Linked DNA regions of Homo sapiens. The main gene of each other region encodes a partner of the protein of the gene in region 2 in a complex. Each region holds a gene or a part of one and is shown on either strand. Other genes may lie near its edges. The genes, in order: OPRL1 and PNOC.

Evidence for each region.
Region 1: the proteins of PNOC (region 2) and OPRL1 are in contact, whole or in part, in a cryo-EM structure (PDB 8F7X), measured with the Homo sapiens proteins. Residues at the interface, in NP_006219.1 of Homo sapiens: Phe130, Gly131, Gly132, Phe133, Thr134, Gly135, Ala136, Arg137, Lys138, Ser139, Ala140, Arg141, Lys142, Leu143; in NP_000904.1 of Homo sapiens: Gln107, Asp110, Gly114, Phe115, Trp116, Val126, Ile127, Asp130, Tyr131, Met134, Gln192, Glu194, Ile198, Glu199, Cys200, Leu201, Val202, Ile219, Val279, Gln280, Val283, Gln286, Gln291, Pro292, Ser293, Val298, Leu301, Arg302, Thr305, Tyr309.

Annotation. Positions count from the first base shown.
Region 1 is NC_000020.11:64,096,846-64,101,183, reverse strand, and holds the end of OPRL1 (nociceptin receptor), read right to left. Parts: intron 3,383-4,338; coding exon 3,027-3,382; intron 2,909-3,026; coding exon 2,385-2,908; coding exon of another isoform or gene 2,298-2,384; 3' UTR 551-2,297; downstream 1-550.
Region 2 is NC_000008.11:28,313,029-28,320,293, reverse strand, and holds the start of PNOC (prepronociceptin isoform 1 preproprotein), read right to left. Parts: upstream 3,027-7,265; 5' UTR 2,978-3,026; intron 1-2,977.

The DNA.
Region 1 (4,338 bases), on a different chromosome or scaffold from region 2:
CTGCTCTGTTTTGCAGGTCGGCCTGGGCTGAACTGGGCCAAACAGGAACCAGGAGGCAGATGTCCATGGCAAGAGTGTACCCAGCCCTAGAGGAGGCCGTCTGCTCATCCTTCACCAAAACTCCCCTCAGATCTGCTCAAGGAAGGGGAAATGAGCAGGAGCAGGGGTTCTTCTGAGATGAAATGGGGGTAAGAAAACCCTGCAACCTGGGTGGGAGCAGCACCCTCCCACTGTATCCTCAGGAAACCTCTCTTTCCAGGGGGCAGGGGAGAGGTGCAGCCATCGGTTGTTTAGAGAGAAACCGTGTGTGCTGAAGAAAAGGTAACAGCCCGGCCAACACACCATTAACTGGCTTCAACTCTCCCCAGGGTTGCAGCCTCCTGGGGGACGTTTCACTGAGGGCAGAGCCCAGCCTGTTGAGCAGCACAGGACAGGTACAAGAATTCAGCCTAAACCCATAGCCTCCTCCCACCCACGTGCCAATCCCAGAAAAGTCACTCCAGAAGCAAATCCCCAGGTGGCAGGAGCCAGAAACACTGGTTACAAAGAATACCCAGCCAGTGAGCAGGTGTTTATTAGGGTCCTTTTTCATTACCCCAGAGACAGACCCAGGGCTGGCTACGTGCACAGGAAGTAACGCTTGCCACATGCATAAATACGTGAAGGTGCACATTACATCAGCACAGATTCACAAAACACCTCGCCTTGGCAAGAAAACTGTAGCTAGGCAGCTCCCGTCCTCAGGGACTCCTGCCACAGACGTCATGGAGACAGCATGAGCCTCCCCAGAACAGTCCCCACGGCCTAGACTCCCCAGAGCAGGAGGAGCAGCCCAGGCTCTGTTGCGAGACAGCCATCACTTCCTGTTCTTTGCAGGTGCCTAAGGTAGGTTACCTGGCCAAGGTTTTGGTGGAAAAAATGAGTTTTTTCAATGTTGCAGGTCTTTTAATAGTTCATCTGTAGGAAGTGCATTTGCAAAGTCACCAACCTGCAGCTTCCATCTGTAGACCAGGAAGGGTGATTCTCTGGGTGACCACAGCGGGGCATCCCCTGAGGTACAGACGCCCCCCCCCCAACCCCCGCAGTGTCCTCACAGCCACCACAGCCTTTGCAGTTTGGCTCAAGCAAGCCCTGCCAGGCCCCACCCCTCATGCTGGCTCTGCTGTGAAGCCATCCTCCCGTTGGGCAGCAAGCTCAGGCCCTACACAGAGCCATCTTGAGGCTTGTAAATGAAGCAGGCGTCCCCAGAGCAGGACTCTGCTGTGGCCACCAGCTTCTCCTTCCACACAGCTTCCCCCGCAACACAGCACGGCCACTGACCTCTGGCTTCAAGCAAAGGAGAGGCTGTGAGGGGAGCCTTGGGAGGATGTGGGGACCCCCAGAGAATCTTCTCCCACCCAAACAGAGCAGTCAAGACCAGGAAAACGAGGCCTCCACTTTGTGAACAGAGCTGCCCATGTGGTCACGCGGCGCCTTCGTCCTGAGACACCTGCCCCACACTGAGAAGCAGGGCTGGGTTGACGGTCCACAGCATGATAGTTCATTGCACCGCTGGAGGGAATGGGCCAGGGCCTCTCGCTGGTCTCCTGAAGGGAAATGGGGGTTGGGCCCAGAGTCAAGCTGCAGTCAGGGATGAGGCCTGCACCGTGCAGCACACAGAAAACCTTCAGAGGTGCGGCTGGCCCAGGGCCAGCTCGGGGTCTGCAGCCAGGGACTGCCAGCCCCCACCTGGACACTTTCTCCTGGGGTGGCCCCGGCTGCACAGGTGGAGTCGGAACAGGCAAGTCCTCCAGGTGGCAGCTCCAAGCTCAGGGCAAGTCCCACCCCAAAGAAAAGCTGCCTGCTGCACTTCCCGGGCAGTGCCAAGCCTGTCCAGCTGCCCTGAGGAGACGTCACAGGGCTGAAGGCAGCTGGAGCCCTGCCATGCAAACAGCACACAGCACATGGGGGGCACAGGATGACACAGCTGCTGCTCCTCCTCCGGGTGCCTGCCCACCCAGGGTTCTGCCAACGCAGCAGCAGAGAGGCCAAGAGTCACATGAAGCACGGGGAGGGAGGGGCACGGGCTCCAGTCACGGCCGTCCACCAGCATGTCAGCTGCTTCCAGGTAGGTCCTTGTGTCCCCTCGGCCCTGCACCAGGAGGGCAGCTTTAGTCTGTCTGGGGCCATGGAGGTGGCCCTAATGCTTTGACCTGTCCCATGATGTCACTAGGTCCTCCTCTGGGACCGAGCATCCCTGGCCCACAGGGAAAAGCCCATCCCAGGCTCTGGATGCTCAGGGCCCAGGGTGTGTCCGCCTAGAGAGCAGTGACCTGTGTGAGCTCTGTGTTGGGCGTAGATGGGCTCTGCGGGCTGACAGGCACCATGGGCAGGTCCACGCCTAGTCATGCGGGCCGCGGTACCGTCTCAGAGGTCTTGCAGGCCAGGGCCACGTCCTTGGCAATGCTGCGCACGCGGTCAGACACCTGCACGTCCCGGCGCAGGGCAGATGCACAGCAGAACTTGCGGAAGCAGGCCTTGAAGTTCTCATCCAGGAAGGCGTAGAGGATGGGGTTGAGGCAGCTGTTGACGTAGCCCAGGGCCGTGCAGAAGCGCAGAATGGCCACGGCAGTCTCGCTGCTCGGCTGAACCCCCAGCCCTTGGGCCAGCACGAAGACCTGGACAGGCGTCCAGCAGCCCACGAACACAGCCACTACCACCAGCACCAGCCGAGTGATGCGCCGCAGGTTCCGGTCCTTCTCTCGGGAGCCCGAGAGCAGGCGGACTCCACGGAGCCGCCGGATCATGAGGCTGTAGCAGACAGAGATGACGAGCACGGGGACGATGAAGGAGAAGAGGAAGATGCAGATGGCAAACACCGGGCCCCAGTAATCCTGAGGGGTAGGGATCTCCACCAGGCACTCGATCTCTGCAGGGAGAGAAACGGGGTCAGAGTGGGCCCAGGAGACGTGGAGGGCACGTGGGCCCAGAGGAGCCACCCGGGAGCCAGGGAGCCTGGTGAGGGGAGGAGGGGACACCCCACTGACCTTCATCCTCGACCTGTGCCGAGCCCATGATGGCAACGGGAACACCGACAACAGAGGCCAGGGCCCAGATGGCCACATTGACAGCCTGGGCTTTGCTGGACGTGCGGACGTCGAGGGCACGGATGGGGTGGCAGATGGCTACATAGCGATCCACACTCATGGCAGTTAGGGTGAAGGTGCTGGTGAACATGTTGTAGTAGTCAATGGCAATGACTGTCTTGCACAGCGCATTCCCAAACGGCCAGAAGCCCAGGAGGATGTCCGTGCCCTGGAAGGGCAGCGTCAGCAGGACCAGAGTGTCGGCCAGGGCCAGGTTAAAGATGTAAATATTGGTGGCTGTCTTCATTTTGGTGTGCCTGCGGAGTAGAGGGAGAAGAAAGGCTTCACTTGGCCATGCTGGCTGGACCAGGCAGCAAAGGGCAAGGGGCTCCTCTTGGCCACCACAAGCTACAGTGGCCCTGAGTCCCTTAACATCAGAGTTCCCATGGGGGCTTGGTAAGTGATAGCTCCTGGACCCAACCTGAGACTCATGAGTCAGTCTCAGGGGGTAGGGCCTGGGGTCAAACGTCTTAACCAGCTCCTCAAGTGACTCTGACACACACAGAAGGATTCCAAGCCTTAAACACAGGTCTACTTTAGAGGAGTCAGGGCATGTAGGCTACCAGAACACACCCCGGATTCTGCACAGGAGCAAAGGTTTAGAGCCCTAAGGGAAAGAGTCTGCTCCCCTTGCTTTTGAGTCCCCTCCATGACCCCTCACAGACTCAAATGCTGACCCTACAGTTGCCAGAGGTTTCTGAGGGCTCCAGAATCTGTAAGAACATATCAAAAGGCTTCCAAGTCCACACTGCTGCCTAGCAATGGAGACCGAAAATGGTGACGGGGGGACAGGAGGGATGCTAATAAGGTATGAGTGTATCCAAGCACCTGAAATGGTGCTGGAAAGGGCTGGGAAAATCGTTGGTGATTAATAAATTTTTGTTAAATAAGTTAATGGTTGTAATAGTTGGGGGGGATTATGGTGGTGATGGTGGTGGTGATGATGGCAGTGATCATGGTGGTGATGGTGATGACTGTGAGCGTGATGGTAGTGGTGATGATGATGATGGTGATGATGGTGATGACTGTGATGATGGTGATGGTGATGATGGTGGTGGTGGTGATAGTGGTGATGGTGATGATGGTGGTGATGGTCGTGATGATGATGGTAATGATGGTGGTGGTGGTGATAGTGGTGATGGTGATGATGGTGGTGATGGTCGTGATGATGATGGTAATGATGGTGGTGGTGGTGATAGTGGTGATGGTGGTG
Region 2 (7,265 bases):
GGGGGGAAGATTGCAGGCCAGTGTGGAAAGAGGGGAGGTTGGATCTGAGCCACTGTGGGATGGCAGAGCTGGGGTGCATGGTGAGGCATGCTATCTACTCCACCTGCCAGGCTGGGCCCCCGGGCTGATGATTTTGTGCTTCTGCAATGTTGAAGCAGCTGCCAGTATTTTGAAAAAAAAAAAAAAAAAAAAAAAAAAAAAGAAAGAAAGAAAGAAAGAAACAAACAAAAAAAACCCCACAGGATCGTGGAAAATTGAGACTGAAACTAATTGTAGCCTATCCAGGGAGATGCCCAGAAAACTGGCTTGCCCCTGAAATCGATGTGCTCCAAATCTCATGACTAGTTTGTGATTAGATGGAAAACTTTATGTTCGACTGTGGGATTTAAATAAAGGCGTTTAGAAAATCCAGTTTGCTTCATGACTGCCCAGCAATTCAAGCCACTGCCAGCCACTCATTGTCAGGACGGCTCCCGTTTTCTGAGAAGGGCCCGTCCCTTTCCTAAGATATCTGAGGAGTAGCTCCACCCAGACTCGGAATGCAAGATATTTCAAAGCTTCCTTCGTGGGCTTTGGGAGCTGTGGAGCTGGATGGAGAAATGAGGGATCACTGAACCGTGTCAGTGCAAGTAGAGAACGCTCACCTGAAACTTCCCATTCCTACCAGTGTGCATATGTGCATGTGTGTATTAGCATGAAATAAGCACGTAGACAAGCTTAGCTCACTGCCTGGCACAGAGTGGGTTTCAAGAAATGTTAATTCCTTTGCCCTCATTTTATGTGTTTGACCTGGCTGCTGCCTCCCTCTTCAAAGCCCTTCACCCATCCAAATTCCACCTGCCTTCTCACTTGGTAGGATCCCAGGAATGCCTGGAGGAAATGCTCCTTCTCCCGAATTCTTCTAGCACTTGCTCTCTGGATTATGTGATTTAGGACTGAATTACACCCTGCCTTGCATGGTCCTCTAATTGTTTCTCATGTTTGTGTTACGTCTCTCCTCTACCCCCGACCCCACTATGAGTTCATAAGCACCCCTGACCGTAACGGGGAGATGAACTGGAGCCACAATGCCTTGGCTCAGTCCTGACCCTGCCATGTACTGAATAAATCATTTAATCTCTCAGTTTCAGTTTCTCCAACTGCAACACCGAGATAATGGCACCACCTCACAGGGCTGTTGCTGGGATAATAGGTGTGAAAGCGCCTAAATCGTTGTACAAATGTAAAGTGCTGTTATTATCACCTCTGCTGAATCTACTAGAGCCCCTGCAAGCCTCCCTGCCTGGTGGAGTGTAGACGGTAACTACCTGATTGATTGAATACAGGATAGCTTAGTGACAGCTCTTGTCATAGGCTCCAGGGAGCACAGGTTTGAGCCTAATCCTGCAATCACTCCCTTCACTGACAATGCAAACTCGCCTGCATTTTACAAATCCGTAAGTACTCTCAGCCTTCAGCTGATAAAGCAGGGGCTGCTGCCCTGTGCGCAACAAAACTGCGCCCTCAAAATGACCCGAGGCTGTACCACAGCGCCCTCGCCAGGCAGCACCAGGCGGCACATGCTTTTACAGAGGTGGTGATGGTTGGGGATGGGTTTTCCAGGGACCCTCCTCTGCAGAAGACTCAGCAAGCCCAAAGGAGCACGAATCCTTTTTGTTAAAGGTAACATAGCCTCAGTGTAAGCTTGTAGAATATTTCCCTGCCACACTTTACAAATGAGAAAAAAAGAGGCTGCATGCAGTAGCCACCCACAAGCAGCGAAAAAGAGCAGTATTTGCTTTGGGAGGTTTTGATAAGAAGCCAGGCAGTTACTTTTCCCATCTATGTTGAAAACTCTGGTTTGGGCTTGCTGGCGAATGCCGTGCAAAGCTCATCTTTTGTTAGTCTGCCGAACAATGTTATTGGTTATAATTGGGGCAATTATGGGCTGCTTGAGGAAGCTAAACACAGATGTTTAAGCGCAGGATGGGGGTATTCAAGTCCAAAGCAGCTTGCTTTAAATAGTCCATTTCCCGAATCATCCTGCCTTACTTGAAATTCCCCCAGAACTTGCCCATGTTCAGAGCGAGATTCGGGGAGGAGGGGCTGGGTAGTGAAGCCGGGGAAGCAAGACTCGAGGGAGAGAGATGCACAAAGAGAGGAGGAAGAAAGAAGGTGGCTGAGAGAGCCTCGAGAGTTGGGATGCGGTGACTATGAACGGAGTATTCTGCATGACCTGGGCAAAGACCTTTAGGTGGGGGAGATGGGCAGGGGGAGAGGGATGCCAAGCAAGAGAAGAGCCCTCTAAATGAATCGGGTTCTGGGAGACCAAGGTCACGCCCGTAGAAATGCTCTCTGGAATTCACACGCCGTGGCGCTCAGCAGTGTGTGTATACAGGTGAAGCACACTCCCCAGATCTGGCGCTTCCCCATTATTTGTAGCAATTTCTGCTGGGGGCAGAAGGGAGAAGGGCTCCCTCCGGATTAAAAACTCCCATCTGGATGGCATCAAGTTCAGTGATAGGCGGAGAAGCAGCCTGCGCACCGCATCTGAGAGGAAAGGAAGCCACTGAGAGGAAACCCTCATGAGGGGGCCAGGGTCTTCCTGGGGGCCGCCCCGTGGAAGGCAAACCCCCTCCCAAGTGCCTGCCCCTCCTCTGGCCTCACTCCTCCAGCAGCCTCCTCTCGACACAGAGCAACAACCACGTAGGGGCCACAGCTGGGGAAGCAAAACTTTTCCTCATTTCCAAGTTCCCCTCTTTCTGCTTCTGCGTCTGTCTGAGGTTAAAAAAGAGACTCAGCCCTCCCCCGTTCCCCACCATCCAAGCGCTACAAAGGAGATGAATGAAGAAACCATCTCGCAAGAGGCCAGCAGCATCCACACTGGACAAAGGAGAGAGGCCGAGGAGCCAGCCCCTGGTGGCCCTGCCCTCCCGGAGCTCCACGCAGTTAGTCCAGTTAGTCGCGGTCGGGCTGGGGGCCCCGTGCAGTTGCCTACCTGAGAGCTGTCAGTCCCCGGCTCCCTCCGATGGATGCGAGGCTCGGTTCCGCTTTCTCAGCCACACCAGCATATATATCCTCTCCCCCACGCACAGCCCTCCCCTTCCCTGCCCACCTCCATGACACATACACACACTGACCCCCTTCAGCAACCAAACAGCAGAACCTGCAAGCCTTCCTGGCTGTTCCCTTCCCCCGGCTCTGCCATCAGACCTGTGACATCCCCACCTCCCCATCAATCCATTCTCAAGCCTGCTTCACCTGGACTCTGTTCAGCCAGGATCCCACAGCTGCCTTCCCTGTGCTTCCAGAGGCTCTGTGAGGACTGATGGGGAGCTCTGGCAAGTCAGAAAAAAAGCCTCCTGGTGACAGTGACGAGGCAGACCCCAAATCCTGGAGTCTCCTTGAGCAACCTTTTTGCCTGAGGAGTGAAGAATAGGAGGCAGGCAGAAGGGAGGGGAGCTCATGCCAAGCTCCTACCGACTCGGAGGAGCCCAGGGCTGAGCTAAGCCAAGCCCTGACCTAATGTCATTGCCCCTAACTAGGCCACTCAAGAGGTGGCTGCACCTGCCCTGGGCCAGGTCAGGAGGCATTTCCACAGGTGCCCACAGCATGGTGCAATGGAGAATGCTGAGACTCGAGGCTCAGATGGAAGTGTCTGAAATTCGGCTGTACAGTCAGAGCAAGGCACATCTCTTTGTGAACCTCAAGTCCTCCTTCCGGAAAATGAGTCTAATACTGCCCAGGATGGTTGTGAGTAGAAAAAGGAGATTCTGTTTGAATCTACAACACACGAGGCCCTTAATGAATGTGCTGCATCCTCCCTCTCCTCTCAGCCCGCTTTTCACACTGATTAGTACCACCTGGATGTAGAAATCCCATATCAGTGTCTGGTGTCACAACAGAGAGCTTTTAAAGCTTCTGCAACTTAGGGCATCACTACCGAGGGCCCTGGAGGCTCAGAAGCTCTGGAAGCTTCCCTGTCCCTTACTGCAGAGCCTCTTTGTCTTCTACAGCCGCCGGGGGTTGTGGGCTGCAGGAAAGGAGCTCACAGGCTGAAGGCACAGGCTTGAGGGTTTAGCATCCTTGTGGACCCCACGTTTCCTTACCTTAGGTGAATTTCACCATGACCCTGTCCTTGGTTTTCCTAAGAGGGTCTAAAATATTCCAGAATCCCAGGGTTTGAACCTATGTCATCCAAGGAGCTCAAGCACTCATTCATGTGGTTAAGTCCAGCTCTCTGGTCTACCCAGGACTGGGTGGAGAAGGATTGAGGGAAGCATCTGCCCTGACTGCAAATGGTATAGGGTTTCTTTTTGGGGTAATGGAAATGTTCTGGATTTAGACTGAGGTGATGGTTGCACAACATAGCAAGAATACTAAAACCCACCAAATTGTATGCTTTAAAATGGTGCATTTTATGTTATGGGAATTACATCTCCATAAAAAGAAAATAGGAAAAAGACAGCAAACATCTGCTCAGGTTAAGAGCAACAGGTTCTGAGAATAAAATTTCCCTTCCGTCTGTGTTCACAGCAAAAGGGCTCAGGAGACCAGCATACTCATGATTCTTCACTTAGATCTCTGTTGCCCAAACCTTACACTGCAGGTCGCAGCTACCATTTTGGACTCTTTGGGAAACCAGCATGTTCACTGACTGACACGGGGTCACTTTTGCATCCTGATGTACTTCAGTGTCTCAGGCCTGGAACCTGATTTCATACATGATGTGGCAGATATTGCAGGCTGCCTACCCAATCCCCATTTCCCTGTTCTTCCTTACTAAACGGTACCCTTGATTTTATTCCAGGCATCAATGCACTTAGCTAAAAGACTACATTTCCCATTGACCAAGGGTTGCCAATGAGCATTAAGCTGCAGGTCCTTGGGTGGGGTTTCCAGGAAAGCTTTTTTTTTTTTTTTTTTAGACGGAGTCTTGCTCTGTCGCCCAGGCTGGAGTGCAGTGGCGCCAACTCAGCTCACTGCAAGCTCTGCCTCCCAGGTTCATGCCATTCTCCTGCCTCAGCCTCCTGAGTAGCTGGGACTACAGGCACCTGCCACCATGCCTGGCTAATTTTTTTTTTGTATTTTTTTTTAGTAGAGACGGGGTTTCACCATGTTAGCCAGGATGGTCTTGATCTCCTGACCTTGTGATCTGCCCACTTCGGCCTCCCAAAGTGCTGGGATTACAGGTGTGAGCTACTGAGCCTGGCTGGGAAAGCTCTTTTAAAGGGGGTCAACTCACTGAAGGCCTCTCTCTCTTCTTTGTCCTCCCTCCATCCTGCCTGGGACACAAATGTGATGGCTGGAGCTCTAGCAGCTATCTTGGATTATGAGATAAGACAACTTTGAGGATGGAAGCCATGAGTAAATATGATGGAACATAAAGATGGAAGGATTTTGGGTCCCCCATGACTAATGGAATGGCCATATCAGTCTTGGACTCCAAACTTCAACCTTTTTTTAAAAACAAAAAAAAAACAAAAAAAACCCCAAACATTTATTTCAAATGTCAGTCAGGGTTCAGTTACCCATTGCTGCATAACAAGCCACACCAAGGCCAGAGGCTTGAAACAACAGACCACGTATTTGACTCATGATTCTACAGATTGGGAATTTTGGCTAGTCTCAGCAGGGCAGTTCTTCTGGTCTCAGCCTGACTCTCTTCTGCACCTGCAGTTGGACTCAGAAAGTTGGCTGGGTGTCAGCTGGGGACCTTGGTTCTCTTGCACATGTCTTATCCTTCATGGGTCTCTCACATCCCTCCAGCATATTAACCTGGCATAGTCTCATGGCAAGCCTGAAGTGAAAGCACAAGCAAATACAATCAAGCAAGGGAACAACCGCAAGCACACAGAACCTCTTGAGACCTAAGCATGGAGCTGGCAGTCCATTGCTTTTGCTACATTTGTTGGCTAAGGCCAGTTGCAAGACTGTCCAGAGCCAGGCTGGGTGGAGACTACAAAGTCCCAGGATAATAGAGGGTGGCTATGCAGAAGCCATTCATTGGAGGCATTTGAAACTTTTACTTCCTATGATTTAAGCCATTTAGTTGGATTTTCTATTACATCCAGTGGAAAATTACCTTAAACCAACACACCTGCCTTTGAGCACCTCGTCATTCCCAGGATGTTCAGGCAGCTAAATGCTTTTCTTCCCTTGCAGTTGAGGAAGAGAAAGAGCAAGAGTGAAAAGTCACTTAGCTTCTCTGGACTTTTCTTTCCTCATTTACCAGACAGAAGAGTTGAACCCAACACCTGGATATTCTTGGTGGGTTGAATGAAGCTGCATGTGGTGGCAGGCTGTCTCCAGTGATGGATGGGGAAGGGCAGGATGAACCCAGGAGGGAGTTTAAAACCACTGTTGGGTGGGGGAGTAGAAGAATCTTGCCCCTCAGAAAAGCACAAGTAGACTAGAAATGGTGCAGACTGTGTGGCGTTTGTGATGGCTTCAGGGCTTCCCCCTTGCCACACAGCCACTGAGACTTGGCACTTTGAGAGCCATGGGCTTCCCTTGGGTATGGTAACTGGTCACAGAGCAGCAAGCTGCCCCCTGCTTTTCTGATTGGCAGGATACATTTATTAAAATAGTTGGAAAAGAAAGGTCACATGTTCTTATTTCTACTGCTTTGTGTGTGTGTGCACGCGCGTGTGTGTGTATGCGTGTGTGTGTGTGTGCACAAGAACTTGGAATTAATAAAATTCTTGGCTGGGCGTGGTGGTTCATGCCTGTAATCCCAGCACTTTAGGAGGCCAAGGTGGGAGGTTTGCTTGAGCCCAGGAGTTCAAGACCAGTCTGGGCAACACGGCAAGACCCTGTCTCTATAAAATATAAAAAACTAGCCAGGTGTGGTGGTAAGCACCTGTAGTCTCAGCTACTTGGGAGGCTGAGGAGGGAGGATTACTTGAGCCTGGGAAGTTGAGGCTGCAGTGAGGCATGATTGAGCCACTGCACTCCAGCCTGGGTAACAGAGTAAGACCTTGTCTCATAAAAATAAAATAAAATAAAATAAAATAATGATTTCTTCTGCTTATGAGGTGGCGGAAGTTCACTCCTGCCCACACCAGCTTGGCATCTTCTTTGCAATAGAGGCCCAACCAGGGAGGCTGCAAACATTAGAATCCAATCTGTACTGATAGGTAAGTTTTGAGGCAGATTGAGAAAGCTCTTAAAATTGTCATCAGAATATCTCAGTAGAGGAAGTACAAGGGAAGGAGGCAGCTGCAGCTGGGCCCCATGTGCAGCTCAACGCACCTCCACCCACCTGCCAATTTTCCCCTCTCAGA